Linked DNA regions of Homo sapiens: all the other regions are linked to region 3. The links come from fine-mapping of genetic effects on gene expression. A gene starts in region 3. Each other region holds a variant in brackets. All regions are shown on one strand. Distances are from middle to middle.

What was found.
Region 1: its variant is fine-mapped to the expression of FAM168A in whole blood (INTERVAL, PIP 0.98).
Region 2: its variant is fine-mapped to the expression of FAM168A in whole blood (INTERVAL, PIP above 0.99).
Region 4: its variant is fine-mapped to the expression of FAM168A in whole blood (TOPMed, PIP above 0.99).

What each region holds. Positions count from the first base shown.
Region 1 is chr11:73,480,858-73,486,004 of GRCh38, reverse strand. The region is part of intron 1 of FAM168A (family with sequence similarity 168 member A); the gene reads left to right. Among named protein-coding and RNA genes, the nearest start is that of RELT, 110 kb to the right of the region's middle. The variant T/C (reference allele first, on the strand shown) is at 2,405.
Region 2 is chr11:73,387,346-73,392,492 of GRCh38, reverse strand. RELT (RELT TNF receptor) reads right to left here. Exons shown (of 11, transcript NM_152222.2): 2 at 3,312-3,381; 3 at 1,868-1,942; 4 at 1,572-1,738; 5 at 1,270-1,349; 6 at 25-282. The coding sequence starts at 3,356. Among named protein-coding and RNA genes, the nearest start is that of RELT, 14 kb to the right of the region's middle. RefSeq lists enhancers at 3,529-3,638, 3,474-4,421, 4,343-4,502, 4,422-5,147. The variant C/T (reference allele first, on the strand shown) is at 3,038.
Region 3 is chr11:73,595,476-73,600,622 of GRCh38, reverse strand. It overlaps FAM168A (family with sequence similarity 168 member A), which reads left to right and starts at 2,511. Exons shown (of 8, transcript NM_015159.3): 1 at 2,511-2,700. RefSeq lists silencers at 2,068-2,297, 2,428-2,557 and an enhancer at 2,449-3,177.
Region 4 is chr11:73,377,917-73,383,063 of GRCh38, reverse strand. The region is part of intron 1 of RELT (RELT TNF receptor); the gene reads right to left. Among named protein-coding and RNA genes, the nearest start is that of RELT, 4.1 kb to the right of the region's middle. RefSeq lists an enhancer at 3,520-3,599. The variant C/T (reference allele first, on the strand shown) is at 2,196.

The sequences.
Region 1 (5,147 bases), 110 kb after region 3:
GATAGAGATACACATGTAGTCCTCCATGGTCTAGTTCCAGAACTTCCCTATTTATAAATGCGGGGGCTGAAAACTTGAAGAGGGTGGGCTTTGAAGAATAGAGTTCCCTGGCTGCTCTGAAGCAACACAGTTCCTCCACCAGAGACCCTTTTTATTAAACTTAGGTAGTAGTAGCTACTGACTTTGCTGCTGACTTGCACATTGGGCCTGGTTTGACTCCAAACCTTCAGCAGGGCATCTGGACAAAGTAGGAGACTCATTATACCATCTTCAGGTTGATTGATTACATTCTGTATACCTATGGTTTTTTCCTAAAGGGAATGAATTTTTAAAATACACGTAATAAAATAGGACGAAAAACAAACAGATTATCAGTGAAGGGGAAATAGGATAATATAGTAAATTTAGTAAAAAAGCTGGGGTAAATTTAGTACTAGAAGTTTTTGCTCATTGCTAAGAACGCTCAGCTTTCCGGTGACCAGACCAAGGCCTGGTCCAAGGTTCAGATTGTCTATCATTCATTCACGTATTCTTTCAGCTGATAGTTTATTCCTATTAAGTGTTTGAATATTCAAAAGACACGTGTATCTCTGGTTCTAATGTCTGAAGGAAGTAGAACTCATTATAAACAATAGGTGACATTAGTGGATGCCACAATAAACCTGATGGCAGGGTCTGTGTGTGATTTGTTTCTCCTAGATCCAGTACCAGTGATTAGCTCAGATCTAGTACTTAGGGATTTGCTGAATGAATTAGTAAGAAATTACTACTTTTTAGGATCTCATGTAAAAACTTGGTCAATGGAATGACTTTAAAACAGTCCTTTAGATGTGTTATGTATATTTAACAACATGATGGTTGTTAAAATAAAAGTGATGGTTAATACTGAGTGTCAACTTGATTGGATTGAAGGATGCAAAGTATTGATCTTGGGTATGTCTGTGAAGATGTTGCCAAAGGAGATTAATATTTTAGTCAGTGGGCTGGGGAAGGCAGACCCACCCTTAATCTGGGTGGGCACCATCTAATCAGCTACCGTTGAATATAAAGCAGGCAGAAAAATGTGAAAAGGCCAGACTGACTTACCCCGGCTACATCTTTCTCCCTTGCTGGATGCTTCCTGTCCTTGAACATCGGACTCCAGGTTCTTCAGCTTGGGACTTGGACTGGCTTCCTTGCTCCTCAGCTTGCAGATGGCCTATTGTAGGATCTTAGGATCCTGTAGGTTAATACTACTTAATAAATTCCTATATATCTATATATCTATATATCGATATATATCTATATATATATCTATATATATCTATATCTATATATCTATAGCGATACATATCTATATCTATCTATATATAGATAGATAGATATCGATATAGATATCTATATATAGATATATATCGATATAGATATCGATATATAGATAGATATCGATATATAGATATATAGATATATAGATATAGATAGATATATAGATATATAGATATATATATCTATATATATCTCTCTCTCCTCTTAGTTCTGCCCCTCTAGAGAACCCAGAATAATACAATCATCAAATACTGAATACCTGTAGTGTGTAGTTGGTCCTGTGCTGTACCCTGGGGAAGAAAAGGATATGAATAAATTATGGTTATTTAAGAAAACCTGATGATACAGAGTACTATGTGATATAAAATTTGTAAGGACTATGAAAGCTCAGAGGAGAGTGTTCCTCATAGGCTGGGCTATTCAGCTTATACATCCTTAAAACGGGGATAATAAATAAAGTTACTGTGAAAATTAAAGATGTTAACATTAAACATCTGTTAAAATTAAAGATGTTAACAGTTATGGTATATAACGTACTCTGTATCCTCAGCGCTGATGCTGGAAGTGGCATAAGATAAAGACCCAGTAAAGGTTTATTGACTGAAGATAAGGAGGGAGGAAGGAAGCAGCAAGAAAGTACATTGGGAACCAAGCAGGCTTGCTTCTTTAACGACTGAGAAGGTTCAAAAGACATTCTTTCTGAGAGCCCTGTTTGGCTCTGAATTATTACATCTGACAATATTCTCTTGTGCTATTATACTTCCCCCATACAATCTTCATTCCTTACTGCCTTTATACTCTTGCTGGACTCTTCTGCTAACCTCTAAGCTAATAAAAATAATGGTTGGTGGGTAATTAGTTCACAGCAACCATCATCTCCCAAATCAGTATTTCCAGATTCCCAGTTGTCTGTTGGACATCTTTGTCTCTACTTCTTCCAAATGAACACCATCTTTGAATGCTTACCTCAGAAACCTCTGACTTTCCCCTCTTCAAGCCCTGCATACAGAGAATTTTCAAATTCTGTCAGTTCCGACTGCAAAATATTTTCCTATATTCTTTCCTTCTTTTCCGTTTTAGCTTTCCTTTCTAGTTCAGA[T/C]CTTCATTTCCTTAACCTGGATAGCTGCTTTAAGACTTTCTGTTTCTCCTTTGCTAACCCATCCTTCATCTTCCCATGAAATATTATTCTAGAACACAGATATGATTATATTACTTTGTTACTTTTATCCTCCATAGCATCTTCATAGCAATTCTTTATATTAAGTGGTAGTATTTCTGTTTTATAGAGGAGGTAATTGTCTTCCTGTGGCAGATAGCCTCAAGGTGAAATGAACACTTTCCTTACTCGTTTTAGGCTCAGTAATTACCCTTCTAAAGCCCTAGACCTGGGAAAGGGACAGTCCAGTGCCTTGGGTCCCTATGGACACTGTAGGTCTTGGTTGTTGACAGTTGCATGTGATGAGGATGTTCCTCTAGGCAAAATAATGATAAAAACCACAATTTATCGTGTTTACATGTGCTCAGGCAGAACATATATTATTTCATTTAATTTTTCCAACATTCTTGGAATATTGATACCACTAGTATTTCCCACTACACAGAAGAAGAAACTGAGATTAAGTTATCCAAGGCCTCACAGCTGTTAACTGTGGCTTAAAAACCTGTTCTTGGCTGGGTGCGCCAAATAATTCCAGCACTTTGGGAGGCTGAGGTGGGCAGATCACCTGAGGACAGGAGTTGGAGACCAGCCTGGCCAACATGGTGAAACCTCGTCTCTACTAAAAATACAAAAAATTAGCCGGGCGTGGTGGCTCACGCCTTTAATCCCAGCTACTTGGGAGGCTGAGGTAGGAGAATCGCTTGAACCCAGGAGGTGGAGGTTGCAGTGAGCTGAAATTGCGCCATTGCATTCCAGCCCGGGTGACAGAGCGAGACTCTGTCTCAAAAGAAAAAAACAAAACAACACAAAAAAAACTTGTTCTTAACCATTATATGAAATTTCTAGGTGACATTTCACACATATTGCTTCCTCAGGGAAGGTGATTATTTTGCATGCTATAAACGTGCTGTTGAGAATTTATAATCTAGTGGGCCTCATAGGTTTGCTTCAAAAAACTAATATATTCTGGTAGAACCCCTTGACTCTGTGGGTTCTTCAACAAACACCTGTATTTCTTCACATTCCCTCAGTATCCTATGTCTCATGACAGATAGATCTAAAATACCCAGGAAGACTTATGACCAGCAAAAGGTGGGGAGGGGCTTTCCTGGAAGTATGCTTTCACATAGTTTATATATTTATTTGTCGGTCTTTCTATCCAGTTGTTCATCTGTCCATCCAGAGAAGAGTATCAAGATGATTTATGGTAGAAAGCCTCCAATCTAAAGTCAGGAGGCTTGGGTTTTGCTCAGAGCCCTGTCCACAACCATGACTTTCTGTGCATTTCTAGGGTAGTCCCTTCCCTTCTCTATGCCTCAGTATTCTCCCCCTTTAAAAAAAAAAAAAAAAAAAAAAAAAGGCTGTTGGATGTTGTCTTTGTGTATTTTGTGCTGCTGTAACAAAACACCTGAGACTGGGTAATTTATAAAGAACAGAAATTTATTTCTTACAATTCTAGAGGCTGGGAGGTCCAAGATCAAGGCAAGTTCATTGTCTGGTAAGAGTTCCATCTCTGTTTCTAAGACAGCACCTTGAATGCTGTGTCCTCCAGAGGAGAGGAGGAATGCTGTGTCCTCACATGGCTCTAGGTGGAAAGGCTATGAAAGGATGAACTTCCTCCATCAAACCCTTTTATAAGGATGTTAATCCATTCATGACGGCAGAGCCTTTATGACCTGAAGACCTCCCAGAAGGCTCTATCTCCCAACACTGTTGCATTTGGGATTAAGTTTCCAACACATAAATTTTGGGAGACATATTTAGACCATAGCAGATGCCATGCCACAGACCTCTTCCAGCTAGCTCTCTCTAACTACATGTGATAGGTAATATGGCAGTTTGTACTTTTGAAGAGGAGCCCCAATATTTTTATACTATATCACAGGCCTTTATTGGACTAAGGAGATAAAAATTTAGCTTATATATTTGCATTGCAAATGTAACCTCTTGTAAGTAACCGTTAAAGAGAGACTCTGAGGATTGCTGATTTATTGTCTCTCTAGAAATCCCTGATCACAATTTTTAATATGTGGGGGTGTTATAGAAAGTCTGTCTGCAGCAATCCATTTCTAGCAAATTATAATTCTGCTTCAGAGATATGTGATAATTTAAAGCCATTGTGTGATGTGGTTGTGAAACCCTGGTACTCTGTGCCTGACTGTGCTAGGTATTAGGGATGAAAGTCTGATCAAGACAAAACTGCTCTCATGGGGTTTACAGTCAGGGATGGGATACAATTATAGTGTGATAAATGTTACAGAAACATCCCAGAGAAAGTTGCACATAACTGAACCCTAAAAAGAAGAGTAAGAATTATCCAGAAGCTGTGCATGGTGGCACGTGCCTGTAGTCCCAGCTACGTGGGAGGCTGAGGCAGGAGGATCACTTGAGCCTAGGAGTTTGAGTCCAACCTGGGCAATATAGTGATACTCTGCATCTTCAAAGAAGAAGAAGAATTATCCAGACTGAGGGATAGAGGGAAGGAGCTAGGAAAGATGAGTGAGAGAAACCAGAAATGATGGAGAACGATGGTATTAAAAACAAAACAGCATGTGTAAAGACTCAGAGACAAGAGAGTATGGCATGTTCAAGGGAACTCAAAATATCAAGTCTGCTGTATTGTAGAGTGTGAAGGCAGAAAAATGCTATTTCAAAATTACATCCGTTTTAGATAATACATCTG
Region 2 (5,147 bases), 210 kb after region 3:
ACCTGGACCCCAGCTGGGCCTCACCACTGCCTCCACCTCCAGGGCCGGGCCCGACCTCCTTGTGCGCCGTGCAGTGGTAGCCCTTCCGCTTGAGGAGGTTGCACACCAGGATGCCCAACAGCCCCATGAGGCAGAAGACAGGGACGATGGCGATGACCGCGTACTGGGCGGCTGTCTCCTCTGGGCCACCTGCCCGGGTGCCGTTCCCAGGCTGCCGTGTCTCACCACCGCTGCTGGCCCCTGCTGCCACCTCCACGCCACGTCGGGCCCGCCGCCCCCACTCTGAGCATCACAGACGATGGAGGCAGGACAAAAGCAGAGTGACACAAACACAGAGAGACAGGGGCCCAGGGCCCGAGTCAGTGGGGGCTGCAGGAGAGCCAATGTGCCCAGGGGAGCCCACTCCCCGCCATGCTGGGGATGCAAAGGTCAACCCACTGCCCTCCTGTTTTCCCTTCTGGCCATCGAAGCATTGTCCTGAACAAGGCCTCCTCAGGACGGCCAGACACCCAGCCCCACCCTCCCCTCACGCTGGGGTCAGGGGGTGAAGAGATGGCACACAGGACACATGTCTGGGCACAGGGACGTGGGATCTGCCTCCCTGTGGCCTGGCCATGAATCTAGTGCCTCAGGGGGTGACTGACTCAGTGGCGGGAGGAGGTGCGTGTGGGTATGTGAGTGTTTGCATGCGCACACTCATCTGCATGGGTTTTTTTAGGCAGGGTCTCACTTGTTGCCCAGGCTGGAGTGCAGTGGGGCGATCACAGCTCACTGCAGCATGAAAATCATGGACTCAAGCAATCCTCCCGCCTCAGCCTCCCGAGTAGCACCACCACGCCCGGCTAATTTTTTATTTTTATTTTTTGCAGACAGGGTCTTGCTATGTTGCCCAAGCTGGTCTCAAAGTGATCCTCCTGCCTTGGCCTCCCAAAGTGCTGAGATTACAGGCATGAGCCACTGCACTTGGCTGGCATGAATCTCTTTGAAGGGATGGGGACAGGGGACAGGTCAGTATGTGAGTCCCCAGCCCCCAGCTGTGGCTGCCATCTGCAGGACACTCTCTGCCACTCGGAAGCATGGTGGGCAGAAACAGCCAGGGGAGCGGCTGACTGTGCCCTGCTGGAGACCCTTTGGCTGCACGCCCTGCCCTGGGCTGGAAGAAGGACCCCACTGCCCCCACATGAACACTGCAGAGGCTGCTGGGCTCCAACTCACTGGCCCCTCCCGCACATACCCCTGCACCAGTCCTAGCCCCAGTCTGCCACTCACCATCACAGCCATGAGTACCCAGAGGTGCCCAGGAACATGGTTGACATGGAACGCGGGGAACCCCCCAAGGCCCAAACCACCTGCGAGGAGGGAAGATACCACTGAGGCCCAGAAGTTTCCCCAAACACTATCCTTAGGAGAGGCTGGATTCCTTCCTACCAGGCACCCTCCGTGGTCCTGCCCCATCCCATTTCACAGATGGGAAGAATGAGGCCTGCTCAGGGTACAATAAGGCTGGGGCCCCAGGATCCAGAGTCCTGGTCACCCAGCCAGGAGCCCTCCCCGCACTCCCTTTGGCTTACCCAGGCCAGCAGTCTCCACAGAGTGTATCTCGAGTTGCCATGCCCACCTGGGCCTCCAGCCTCCTCCAAAGGCTGCAACGGGCATGGGGCTGGCATGGGCTGGAGCCCCATGCAGCTGAGAAGGTGCCTGGGGGGCAGGGCCTGCATAATGTGCCCTGCCCTGGGTCCTGTGGGAGGTAAAGGGTGAGAGCATGGCCAGGAGCCAAGCCTGAGGACCCTTGGGGGCCAGGCACAGGACTCTGCCCCTGGCCCTCAGGGCCCTCCCAGGACAGGCAGGAGAGCAGGGCAATGCTCACCAGGTCGGGCTCCTCCCCAGGTGGGCACTGCCAAAGGGTTGTTGATGTCAGGGTGGCGAGAGGCCAGGGCAGCAGCTAGAAGAACAGTAGGCATTGAAAGAGGCAGAAAGTGCTGGGTGTGGGGTCTCTGGGGTCATCTATCCCCCACCTATTTCCTGAAACCCCAGTGGTAGGGACCACTGACTACCCCACCCGGGCTTCAGGGACACACTCTTCTAACCTCAATCCCTCACACTGAGGAAAACCTGTCCTGTCCCAGACCTGCTGCAAGACCAGTACCTGGGCAAGGAGAGAGCCACATCTGGCTCTGGAAAGTGCTGGAAAGCCCCAGATAAGGCCACATCAGGATCTCAAGCCCTTCCAGCTAACCAGAACGATGAGGAGGAAATGCTTCCGAATCCTCTCTCGTATTCTGCCCCCACTTCCTCCTACTTTGGGTCCATCCCTGGCCCCATCACAGCTGGGCATATCATTAACCAGCCTCATTTATAATCCCTGGAGCCAAGTCTGCAGGTGGCGCTTCCTATTCTGGGCTCTCCCTTCAGCGAAAGTCTCCAGGACCACATCCTCCTCTGCAATCTTCCCTCAAGGCGAGGCTACCCCATTCACACCCACACACCCAAACAGGGAGACGCATCCCAAAAGAAAGCTCCATCTTCTCAGTGTGTGTCCCCAGCCCATTTCACTAGGAGTTCTCTCTGCTTCCCATTCTTAGGAATGAACTGTCTCTCCTGAATCCCTCCTAGAGTCCCCCAATTTGGCCTAGGCTGGATGAGGCTACCATCAGCTGCCCTGGAGATGGAATAGGGATCTCCTCAGACCCCAGAGCGGCTCCCAGCACCTGCTAAGGCTGGAAGGCCTCCTGTACATGGAGCAACCCTTAGCAAGGCCCAAGGCCAAGTCTCACCCTCCCTGAGCTTCTAGCGTCACAGCAGAAAGATGGGCCCCAGGGCAGACCCCAAGATGCTGCAAGTCTGTAATGTGGACTTGCCTGCAGCTCCGGGCAGCTGGCCTGATCCTGTGATCCTGGGACCTGGAATCTGGGATCCCCCAGACCAATACAGATCTTGAACCCCAGCACCTGAGGTGCTATGGCTCTCAGGGTCCAAATCCCAGGCCTCTTTTGCCCAGTTTCCTCTTGGTGCCCAGCATACCCTCTGGGCTGGGCTC[C/T]GTTCTCATGCCTGCGTGCCAATGGGCATCTTGCCCTCAGCCATGCCTGCCTTGCCCATAAATGCCAGCAAGCCCTTCATTCTCCATCTCCCTGACAAGCCTGGGTGGGCCCAGAGGTGCTTCCTAGGGTCCAGCTGCCTCAGATTCTTGACGAGCTGAGTAACTGAGCCCTGCCCAGCAGGGGGTTCCCCGGGAGTGTCTGCACCCTCTTGCTGGAGGGCTGCAGGGCTGAGGGTGCGGCTTTTCTCCTTCCCAGGGCCCATCCCCAGCTCACCATAAGGAAGCAGGACAGGGGCCGGCACAGCAGACTTGGCTTCATCCTCAGGCCCCTGGTGGTCGCCGGCCTAGGGCAGATGGAGAGGAGGCTCGGCAGAGCGGCAGGGACAGGCAGGCAGCTGCTGTCCCCTCAGCACCACTTCCAGGATGACAGGACTCATGGGGAGCAGGCAAGGTGCTGCTGGGCAGGCAGAGCCCGGGGAGGCCGGCTCCACACCCGCAAGCACAGGCCCAAGCAGAGGGGGCTGCCCTGCCTGGGAGCCGGCCTCACGGGGCAGCACAGGCAGGAAGGCAGGAAGAAGGCTCTGCAGGCTGGGAGGCTTCCCAGAGGAGGAAGGGCTTCCTTCCCCTTCCTTAAACTGCCAGGTGCCCCGAGGCATCAGCAGGGGAAGGAAGCGCGTGTGGCGGCCTGTGTCCGTGATGACAGGGTTGCAACCAACACCCAACACCCCAGCCCGGCCTCCACACTCCAGCCCAGCGCTCCAGGCTCAGGCTCCCCCCGCCTCCTCCTCACAGGTCTGCAAGCATGCCCGGCCTCTGCCTTCACTCCTGCTGGTTCTGGTCCAAGGAAGGCCTTTTCCTTTACCCTTCAAAGCTCAACACGAAGGCCTCTCTTTCCAGAAGCTTCTCTAGAAGCTTTCCCCAAAGTGGGTCTGGCTCCCACAGCTCCCCACCCCATCTAGGTCCTGGTCCTTCTGCATGGCCACTGTCCACACCTCTTCCAGGGAGGCTGACTCCTCCCTTGAGGCTGGAACATGTCTGGCCACAGCTCTTCCCCTGGCAGACCTATGGGGCTGGGGTGGTCACGGCAGCCAGTGCTCTGTCTTTGTCATCTCTCCAGCACCTACTGCGTGCGGGCACTGGAGAAATCGGTATGAACAAGACAGACAAGGTCCCTGTCTGCAGGGAGCTCCATCCCAGGGGAGACCCAACTGCAAACAGAGAGGTGCCCCTGCCATTTGGTGGTAAGTGCCAAGAAACGAAATAAAGCAGAGTGGGAGTGCAGTGTGTGATACTTCAGAGAAATATCCATGGTGGCGTCACGGCCCACCGGTCTGAGACTGAGGCCCCCAGGCCCAGACGGTGGCCTGCTCTGGAGAAGCCTCCGGCCAGTGGACGAGGCGGACACAGCAGGACAAAGGATTCACATCAGACAGCAGAAGGGACAGGTGGCAGAGCAAGGAAGTCCGCTGTGTACTTCCTGGAGGCCTGGCTTCAGGGGCACGAGGCTGAGGAAAGCCGTGCTCTTCAGGCCACACGCAGCCTCTTAAGCCCAGGGGCAGCCTGGGAACCCAGCCACTGGCTCAGGGCCGCCGCGGCTGAGGCCCCCGCTGTGACTCCAAGGCCGGTGAGGTGAGAAAAGCGCCTCCTGTGGTAGTCCCAAATCACTCAGAGTCCTCTCCCTGCAGGCAGCCCGGCCCTCCCACCTAGAATAGCAGCCCAGGAAACCGATCTGTCCACCCGCCCTCCCTCTTGGCAGATCTCAGAGGGGCCCAGGGTTTGAGTTACACTCAGGGGAGGGAGTGGGCAGCAGTTACATCATCTCAGGACTCTCCAGGTCACTGGCAGCCACTCTGGGTCCCAGGCCAGCTCAGGGGAAAGCCAGGGACAGGAGAAGGTAGGGCCACAGTATAGGGTGGAGGCCACACCTGGCAGTCAACACCCAACAGATGGCACCCCCAGGCTATTTGGGGAGGGTCCCCTGTCACTCCTTAAATTTGGTCACAAGTCTTCCTTCCAGTTTCTGCCCCAAAGTGTCCTGTGCCCTTGTCAGGGCCCAGCTCCCACCTCGAGCCTGTCTCCCCATGGCCCCTCCTCTGTCCTTTGAGGGATC
Region 3 (5,147 bases):
ACATATAGCTTTGTGTAGGCAGAGCTGCATAGGCCCTTTACAATAACTCTGTACCTCTCTCTTCACTTCCTCTCCCCACCGTGATCTCTGGCCAACAGATTAGAAACCACTGCTATAAGAATTCAGATAAGCCGGGAGCGGTGGCTCACGCCTGTAATCCCAGCACTTTGGGAGGCCGAGGCAGGCGGATTACCTGAGGTCAGGAGTTCAAGACCAGCCTGGCCAACATGGTGAAACCCCATCTCTACTAAAAATACAAAAAAAAATTAGCCAGGCATGGTGGCACATGCCTGTAATCCCAGCTACTCGGAAGGATGAGGCAGGAGAATTGCTTGAGCCCGGGAGACGGAGGTTGCAGTGAGCCGAGATTGCACCACTGTACTCCAGCCTGGCTGACAGAGCAAGACTCTGTCTCAAACAAACAAACAAACAAACAAACAAACAAAAAAGAATTCAGATATAAGGAAAACCAGTGTGTCTAAAATATGTTCTAGGGAAGGTAGGACTTTGGCTTGAGTTTGAAGAATGAGTAAGAGAAAAGGAGAAAATGGGTGTGGAAAGACCAGAAATGGAAAAATTTTGAGAAGACGCATTGAAAATTGAGAAAATTCTCCCTTCCAACTTTATGAATTGGAAGTGACTACTATTATTTGTTTTAATAGTGGAACTATTAAAACCAGGCAGGCACAGTGCTGAAGCATGAATGAGACAATGGGAAGCCATGGAAAGCATCTAGGCAGCAAAGAAAGGTTGTTAGATTTGGAAATTATGTTTTTTGGAAGTAGCACAGCTTAAAAAATTGTCCAGGTGTAGTGTGGCTCACACCTGTAATCCCAGCACTTTTGAGAGCTGAGGCAGGAGGGTCTCTTGAGGCCAGGAGTTTGAAACCAGCCTGGGCAATATAGTGAGACGACGTCTCTTACAATTAAAACAAAACAAAAAAGAAAACAAAAAACAGTCGTTATGTGCTCCTTTTAAACAATTCAAACAATATGAAAACAAAAATTACAGTCGGGCATTGTGGCTCATGCCTGTAATCCCAGCACTTTGGGAGGCTGAGGCGGGCAGGTCAGGAGGTCAAGAAATCGAGACCATCCTGGCCAATATAGTGAAACCCCATCTCTACTAAAAATACAAAAATTAGCTGGATGTGGTGGCGCGCGCCTGTAGTCCCAGCTACTCAGGAGGCTGAGGCAGGAGAATCGCTTGAACCCGGGAGGCAGAGGTTGCAGTGACCTGCGATCGCCCCCACTTTACTCCAGCCTGGCTATAGATCCAGACTCCGTCTCAAAAAACAAAAAAAACCTACGTGCAATCTGACACCCTTTCCCCCAAGATAATCATTGCTAATATTTTGGCGAACCTCTTTCCTGAAATCTCTCCATGCTTGTAGAATATTGTGTCAAACCTCACATAAATGCACTCGTGTAGACATGCTGTTGTGTAATCAACTTTTTCCCCGAAGAATAAATTGTGAATAGCTTTTCATGTCAATAGATTTATATCATTTTAAATGGCTCCTTAGTATTGCATTGTATGTATATGTCACGTCTTATTTAAGCAGCACCCTATCGATGAACATTTACTCCCTTCATAATTAACTACGTCATATAACAACTTTGTGCATTCATCTTTTCGAAATTGTTCGATCATCTTTTTAAGGTAAATTCTTAAAAGTAATGGAGCTGGGTCAAGAAGAGGATATGCCCTTTGTCGTTTGGATTCAAGTTGCCGAATCGTCCTCAAATTTGCAGGGAGACCAGCGAGGAAGCTCCGGCATTAGTTCTGGTGAGAGACAGCTGAAACGGAGATGGCGAGGGATGAACAGAATCACAGGTGATCTAGCCCATCAAGGCCCATCCTCGGTGGGCTGGCGTATTCCTTCCCTTTTGCCTCTCTTTCACTTCTTTTTCTTAACATGGAGGAAGAACCGAGAACTCCATCTCCCAGCATTTCGCAGGGACCACACTCCCTGGGAACTGTAGTACCGGGTCTGAGAAGGGTCCGGAAGGAGAATAGGAAGCTGAGGGGCATGCTGGGAGGTGTAGTCCAGAGACAGAGACGAGAGGGAGAGGGAGAGAGGGAGAGAGGGAGAGAGGGAGAGACAGAGAGTGTGTGTGTGTGTGTGGGCGGGGGGAGGGGGGTGTCTATGCAAAGAGGATGGAGACGCTGCGAGTACGGCCCCTTGGGGATGGGGCCTCGGGCGACCTGACTTTCCTCACAGGTGGTCTTTGAGTCTACAAAATTCGCCAGCGGATGGTTGGCTTTATTCCACTGTCCGTGACCGGAGAGGGCGCGGCCCCTCTGCACCGGGCTCGCGGCGGGAGGCGCAGGCCGCGCGCGGGCTAAAGCAGGGCATGCCGGGAGTTGTGGTCCCGGCGCTCTGAGGCTGTGGGACGTGTCGCGGCGCCGCGCCGGCTCCTCCTTCCCTGCCCTTCTGAGCGGTCCCCCGCCTCCTCCCTCCGCCTCCTCCTCCCTCGCCCGCAGCCGAGCGTCCCCTCCCCCCACCCGTCGGGCTCCTCGGCGGCTACTGCAGAGGATTCAGAGCCGAGTCGCTGAGGAGGAGGCTCCGGTCCCCGCGCGCCATCCGCCACCCTACTGGACACGGGCGAGAGCGTCGCCGCCGTAGCCTCCGGAGAAGACAAGGGCATCGCCGCCTCAGCCGCCGCCGCCGCCGTTTTCGCCTGCAGCTGCTCACCGGTGAGGAGACTCCCCCCGCCACAGGGTCCGCTGGTCCTGAGTCTGGGCCGGTGGCGCTGGCGAGAATGAGAGGGGAGGCTGCGGAGCCCCCGTGCAGGTTGGGGGGAGGGGGTTGAGGTCGCGATGGAACGGCGGGCTGGCGGGGGAGACTTGTCCAGGCGCTGGCCGGGGGTGGGGTGAGGGTGGGACCCAAGCAGGTTGGGGGGCGGGCGACAAGGGAGGAGGACTTTTGATGGAGAATAACCCAACCTGGGACAGGAGAGTGGGGTGGGGGCGTCGGGTTGGAATTCGGGATGGTCTTGGGGCGAGGTGGAAGATGAGACTAGGGTGGGATGGCTTTTAATGGGGGAGGGGACTGAATGAGGGTGGTGATTTGGGTTTGGCCTGGAGCAGTTGACAGCTTGGGATCTGAGCTGGGGTGAGGGGCAGGGGAATGATTTCAACGGAGAGTGAGTGGCATGTACAGGGTTGGTTAGGGCCCTGCGTAGTGTTAATTCAGAAGGGTGGAATTTGGGGTGGACCTGGGGCAGGATGATGGAGGTGGCAGGAGTTGGGGGTGAGGGGCTTGGCATGGGTTGAGACCCAAGCTTGAAGTGGGTGTTTGTCATCTGGGGCTGGTGGAATTTGTGGAGACTTATGGAATAGCATGGGTTAGGATAGAGCAGAAGAGTGCAATTTGGGGGTTTCCTGGGGTGGGCTGATGGAGGTTGGAATAGGAGTTGGTGGAGGTGGGACATTCAGTGAGGGGAGTGTGATGGTGAGCTGGCAGGAAGGGGCCACATTGGAAGTCAGGCCCGAAATGGGAGGACAGGGATGGAAATGGAGTGTGGGGCACAGTGGGTTGGATTTAGGGTGATCTTACAATCACTGGAAAGGGCATGGTGGCTCCTTGGTTGCAGAGTCAAGGCAGAGGGCACATAAAACATCACTGGGCTGCTTTCATTGAAAGGATAGCGGCAGGGGTGAGCAAAGTTGGGGGATGGTATCTTGAAGAAAATATCCCTTGGCCAAGGTGGCAGAGGGAGTTTTGGAGAAGGACTTTCGGAGATGAGCTGGTAGGCCTGGGGAGGTGGTTGCTGATGGTGAGGTGGCACAGGGGAAATTTAAGGAATGGGAGACCTGGAGCTGTTGGTATGGATGGGGCAGAGAGGATGGAGAGGGACAGTGAGCTGTGCTGGAGAGCAGGGGGGAATTGGGTTGGATTATTTTGGTGGTGAAGGATTGGGGTGGCCTCCAAGAGACACATGAGGGTTAAGGGTTGGAATACTTAAATGAACAGCCTTGGTGGCTGTGGTTGGGTGAGAGGCAGTAAGGCTGTTAGAGGGGACTTTGCAGGGGACACGGAAGAGACCTTCTCATTCTTAGGGGCCATTTTAATCTGTTCGGGTGATGTTTTTGTTTGTTTTATTTATATTAGTAAAATTTGGAAGTCAAGTCAGCCCAAAGGGTAAAGTTGAAAGGGGATTTAGTTAAGGTAGAATTAAGGAGGGGAGGGTGTCTTCTGTTATTTGTATATCATAAAAAGTAAGTTGGGGGAAAAAAGCATACTTCCAAACTAAAGGTGGGAGAAGATAAACTGGAATGTAATGGATATCTTTCTATATGATGTCTCTGCCTTTTCTTTTCCCCTCTCCTCCTGGTGTATTTAAAAACTAGCCAGGCATTTTGAAATTTAAATAGATTTGATGAGCTTGAGATTGTTAAGGGTGCATTCCTTGCTTGAGAACTAATGAGTGAGCCTGAAAAATATGAGACTGAATTTATTTTGTAGGTAGGTAACAAGCACATAGGCAAAAAGAGCTTGGGCCTTTTTTACCCCCTCTTTAAATTGATTGCTTGAAGACGCCATTTGTTAGTGTCCTGGTTTGCAAGGCAATTAGGCCCATCATTGTATTGCAGGCTAATAATCCTGAGATGAGTCTTGGCACCACCGCTTTATGTAAACAGAGAAGACAGGAAATATGGAAATGTCATAAATATTCATTGGTGAGATGGTTTGGTACTGATGGAGTTTTTCATATGATTGTCTTTTGACATTGATAAGATTTAGAATAATTGGACTGTATTTCTAAAGATTGAATTTTCTTCCAAAGGAATTCAGGTGATCAGAATTCTGTCAGATGTGAATAAATAAAGCATATTGAGTCATTTTTATTTTATTTTTTGGGGAATGATGTTGATGTAGTCGCATTGTATTAACTACAGAAACAGCATCTCCACCTATTCATCAGAAATTCGATTTAAACCTTAGCGATATGCTCATTCTTAGGGCAGAACGATGATAATGGAAGGTACACAGGAGTGCAAATGGAGGGAACATCTTTAGAGAAACAGTTCTATGGACCTAATTGCATTAACTGTGATAATATGTTAAACATAAAGTGGCTGTTGATTAGAGCTCAGACTGAAAAAAAATGAGGAGGGATGTAAAGAAGATAAAATTGGCA
Region 4 (5,147 bases), 220 kb after region 3:
GCATGGTTCTGCACCTCAGACCTCCTGGCTGCCACCAGGCCTGGGTTTCAGTGGCTCAGGTGGATGGGGTGGGGCTGAGGCTAAGGGGGCTAAATTGGCCCCTTGAGGCCAAGAAAAGGGCTGAGGTGGCCACACCTGGCCCACCCAGCTCCTCCCAGTCTGGGTATGGTACAGGTGCAATCCTTGCCCCACTTCCTGGGCCGAGTCTGGGGCTAGAGGAGGGATGTCTGAGACCAGACAGTTATCTCGGGCAGAGAGGAGGCTCCCTAACCCTCCTCACTGAGCACTACTGCCTGTCCCCTTCCCACTCTAAGCTGGGTCTCACTGAACCCCTCAAAGACAGTGTTCCATGCTTCACACAGAAAAAACTGAGGCTCAGAGAGGTCAAGTGGTAGCCTGTAACAACTTCACCTTGAAGGAGATGAAGTTTACCTACCCTGGAGTAGGGGCAACTGGCAGGCGACCCCTGCCTGAGCCACCCAGGCCTGGTATCTCCACTGCTTCTGGCCACCGTCAACCTCTCAGCACCACAGACAGCCCTGTGTTGCCAACCCTGGCCCTGAGACAGGACAGCAACGGGTCTGGGGGTGCTGAAGGACACCTCACTGCAGCCCCGGCTCATGCTCTGCTACCTCCTCCAAGAAGCCACCTTTGCCACCTGCCCCGGCCATAAAACTGATCCCAAGTCCCTAATGTGCTCAGCATGGGCCCTGCCCCCAATCACCCTGACCTGGAAGACCTGGGCAGAGGCTTTGGGAGGGACTTGGGGGAGACCACAGCCCTGGTCTGCCCCATTCTCCAACTCTCCCCAGACTTGCGGTGCTGGGGAAAGAGGCGCCCCCAGGGCCATCCCAGGTCAGGTCCTACCCAGTGGAGCTACGCTGAGGACTGGGGTCAGTGCAAGTGCAGTGGTGGAGCAGGGAGGAGACAAGGTTGGGCCCTGGAGCAACCCACCAGGGTTCAGACTCTGGCTCTGTCACTTCGCAGATCGATGGCCTTGGGCAGGTTACTTACCCTCCCTGAGTTTCGGGGTCTTCCTCTGCAAACAGGGGTGCTAGTCCCTGCCTCATGGGATACTGAGGGCTCTCAACACAGCTCCACGAGGGCCAGAGGAACCCAAGCTCAGGACCAAGCAACAGCCAGCCGAGGTCACCCAGAGGCTTGGGTGTGGCAAGAGTGCTTTGGGGAACTCCACGTAAACCCTGGCAGCACAAGTAGAGGGGCCTCGGCCTCTCTGGGAGGGCCCTGGGTGCCCATGTCCCAGCCCCTGTACAGGCCTACGTCCACCTGCTCCCACACCAGCCAGGGCCATGGTCAGGAATGTAAGGGGTAGTTCAGCAGTCAGGAACCCAGCCCCAACTTCCCAAGCCTGTTTCCCAATTACACCAGTGCAGCTGACCTCATGGTGTGGTGGAGGACTCAGCGTTCACAGGCAACAGGGGCTCTTCTTACAATCAGGCCTTGGGCCAGGCATCCCCTCCTGTAGGAAGCCTCCCCAGCCTCCCTGTCAAGAGGGCCCCCTCTCCTCTCCAGACTCCCCCACCCCTCACCCCTGCCATCAGTTTTCAGTCTCCCTTGATTCCTCGAGAAGGGGTGAGGCTCCTTGAGGGAGGGAGGGAAAGGGTCTGTGCAGGAGGCCAGGCATGCAGCAGGCTGGTGGTGTGGGTGGCCAAGGTCCTCCCCTCTCACTGCTCCTCCTCACAGTGCATGCACTGGGCTAAGCGCAGGTCCCCCCTCTGGAAGCCCCCACTCCTCTCTCTACCTGCACACTCAGACCCTGACTCTAACTGGCTGTAGAGGTCCCGCTGTCCCCCTCTGTCTGTGACAACTAGCCAGGGCACTTGCTCACAGCCACATGGGCAGCTTATTTATAGAGCTCTCATCTTTCCCAGAGTGGCCTAGGAAAGAACTCTGGTCTTCAAGGCCAGCAGACCTGGGTTTGGATCCCAGTGACACTGGGGCCTGGCAAGTGCCTCCTCTCTCTAGGCCTTGGTTTCCCTGCCTGTGCTTGGAGGGAATGATGACCCCCAGGAGTATAAGGCTGAGGATGTGACAGCCTCCCGGGCCATAATCCCACGGATGGGCAGAGTAGGGATGCAGCATTGGCTCTTGTCCTCTCTGCCACTCCAGCCCCACTCAGCAGCACCAAGCCTAGGCCCAGAAAGACACGGGTTCAGCACACAGTGGGTATTCTC[C/T]CTGTCCAGAGACCACATCCCTGCTCCCCCATCGATCCTGAGTGGGGAATGGCGCCAAACACACCCTGCTGAGTAACCTCAGGCAAAACCCCTTCCTCTCTGGTCCTCTCTCCTGCTGACCTGGCAGAAGGGCTGGCCCCATAACAGAAGTAGTCAGGTCCCGCCCAGCCAGACTGGGTGCTGACCAGCCTGGCCCTTCTTGAGAAACTAATGTTAGAATTGTCAGACAAACCCCTCGACCCTCACCTCCTGCCTGGAGACCAGGCTGGGGGCTGGGTAGGATCTGGAGTACCTGACTACAACACAAGTGGCTGCGTGACTCAGCCTAGGGCTGCTCTCTGAGTCGAGGTTCCCCCATACCAACTTGGAAAGGAGAGGGCCCGGGTGAGTGCTGTTGTGAGGAAATGCTGGGCCCAGAGCCTGGCACACTACAGGGCCTGAGCAGGGACAGTTGCCTCTACTGGCTCAAGATGTCGAGGACCATGACAAGCACTACACTTGCCCCCTACCCACAGGAGTGGCCGTGAGTCTTTGCCCCCACCCGCCAGCACACATTCTGCCTCAGGTCATGGTGAGCACCAGAGACCTGGGTGCAAATCTCCCGGTGCCTCCCAGCACACAGGTGCTGGGATCCTAGAGCAGCTGCCCTTCCTCAGGAAGAGGTCTCGTCAGCACAGAGACGGCAGTGGGAGGGGGTGGGCTACTGGCCACGCTGGCCCCACCAAGCTGAGCATGCGGTACCCACAGGTGCCCCAAACCTGTGCCCATTCCCCAGCAGTGAGGGAGGACACCTGGCAGGTGGCCCACAACAATGAAGGGAGACTAATTTCGGGCCAGGAGGGCTTCCTGGGTGAGGTGGAGCTGGGGCTATAGTCTGGATGGCCAAGAGGGTTCTAGAAAGAGGGAAGCTTTAAAAGCAAAGGCAAGGCAGACAAGGCATCTGGCAAGGAGAGGCGAGGGTAAAGATGCAAATTCTGAAAGGCCTTGGAAGGAAAGGCCTCATTGCCAGGTGAGGAGTTTGAACTACACTTTGTAGGCGAAAAGCAAGTTATTTTATGGAGGTCACTCTGGCAGTGTGCGGGAGAGCCGACGTGGAAGCACAGAAGCTAGAACCAGAGCCTGGGCAGGGATGGCAAGGCCAGAGCTGGAATATGAGGCAGGCCGACGTCCAGAAGGTGTGTCTTGGGCCTGCTTCCAGTGCTGGCCAACCTCCAGCCGCCAGGGAAAGTGTGGACACAGAATGACAAACTCAGGACAGAAGGCAGGTACCGCGTCTGGAAGGTGAAGGTTCTAGGAGTCCTAGGGTAAGTCCCTGAATTCTCAGAACCTCAATCTCTCCTTCTGTGAAATGAGATTGGGCCTGACCCTATGAGTAGGGGCAGGTGCTGACTGGCCCTCAATATCTCCCCTCCTTGGCTAGACATAGGGCCCTCCCTCCAGCAGCTATCACACCAGTCCCAACTGTGGTCACAAGTGGAAACCCAGCCTGGCCCCACTGTCATCCCCAGAGGCCCAAGTTCCCAGAAAGGTTTGGCTTGGCCAGGGCACAGGCTGAGGCTGGGGGCCTCCTTTAAGGCTGGGATAAGGAGAAGTTAACCCTTCTCCTCTTGCTCCCCCTCCCAGGCCCTAAGCTATTTCCACCTCTTTGTTGAGGATGGAAATAACTCCGGCTCAGCCCCTAGAGACCACGACAGCTATTTTCATCAGCCCCAAGAAGCACAGCTCCAGTCATTGCAGAGAGGACCGAGGGACACCCTGATCCCCAGTTCCAGTTCTTGGCCAAGTGGCAACAGTGGTCAGAGCCAAAAGGGGTCTCTGGGAAGAACAGGGAGACCGAGGCCCAGAGAGAGTAGGGACCAGCTCAAGGTCACTCCCTGTCTGCTCCCCACCATAACATGCAGGTGGATTTGGGGAAATGCCTCTAGAGCAACTGCAAAGGGGAGGGGGCCTCTCAAGTATGATGAAGGTCACCTGGGACTCTCAATTTTCCCTGCTACCCCTAGGCTGTGCTGCTAACTCCATACACTCTTCAAAGCCATGGGGACACCCCCAAAGCCAGGTCCAGGCTCTAGAAGGCAGGGGACAGGACTTTCTGGTGATGTCTGGTTGGGAGTGAAGTCTGGGGAGGAACAGGAAGACCATGTAACCCACCCATCCCCAGTGTTCCAGACATGTGTGCACACACACACATCATACTTAGAACTCACAATGTAATGCCCTGGCTAGGCCACGCCTACTAGCCCAAGTTTGAGAGACAGAAGTCCAGGAAAGCCATGAGCAGTTATTAGGAAGGTGGGTGATCCTCTCTCCCAGCATCTCACTGGTCTCTGGGGTCAGAAGACCTGAATTCCAGTCCTGGCACTGTCCTGACTCTGTATGACCTTGGCCAAGTCACTTTGCTTCTCTGATCCTCAGTTCCTTTCTCTGAAACACAGTCACTACATCTCAGAATCACTGCGAAGATTCAACAAGACAGAACACCATGAAGTGTTCAGAACAGTGCCTGACACTGTCCCCCACCCTGTCCCCCACCCCTAGAATGTAATCAGCATTTTCAGAGGACGACAGCAGAAGACAGAACTTCCAGATTCTACAGCAAGTGCCACCCTCTCCTAGACTAGGGAGCTCAGCTTCCACCCCACCCTGCATGAACCCCACAGACCTTCATACGGGAGAAGGGGCCTCAGAAGGGTCTTGCCCAGATGGCGAAAGGGTACCGCTCCAGCTCTCCAGCAAGAACTTAGCCTCCCAGACCAGAGACCACTCCTGGGGAACAAGTCTCTCCCCACTCTCCCCCAACCCAAGGAACTGAAGAAAGGACACCCAGGCAGAGAAGTGAATGTCTATGGATTTGGGGATCCATATTGTCTATGGATCCATTTCGTGACAGAGGACCAGGAAGCCTTTGGGTGGGAGGCTAACGTTTCCTTGACCAGTTTTGGAGAAGGCTGT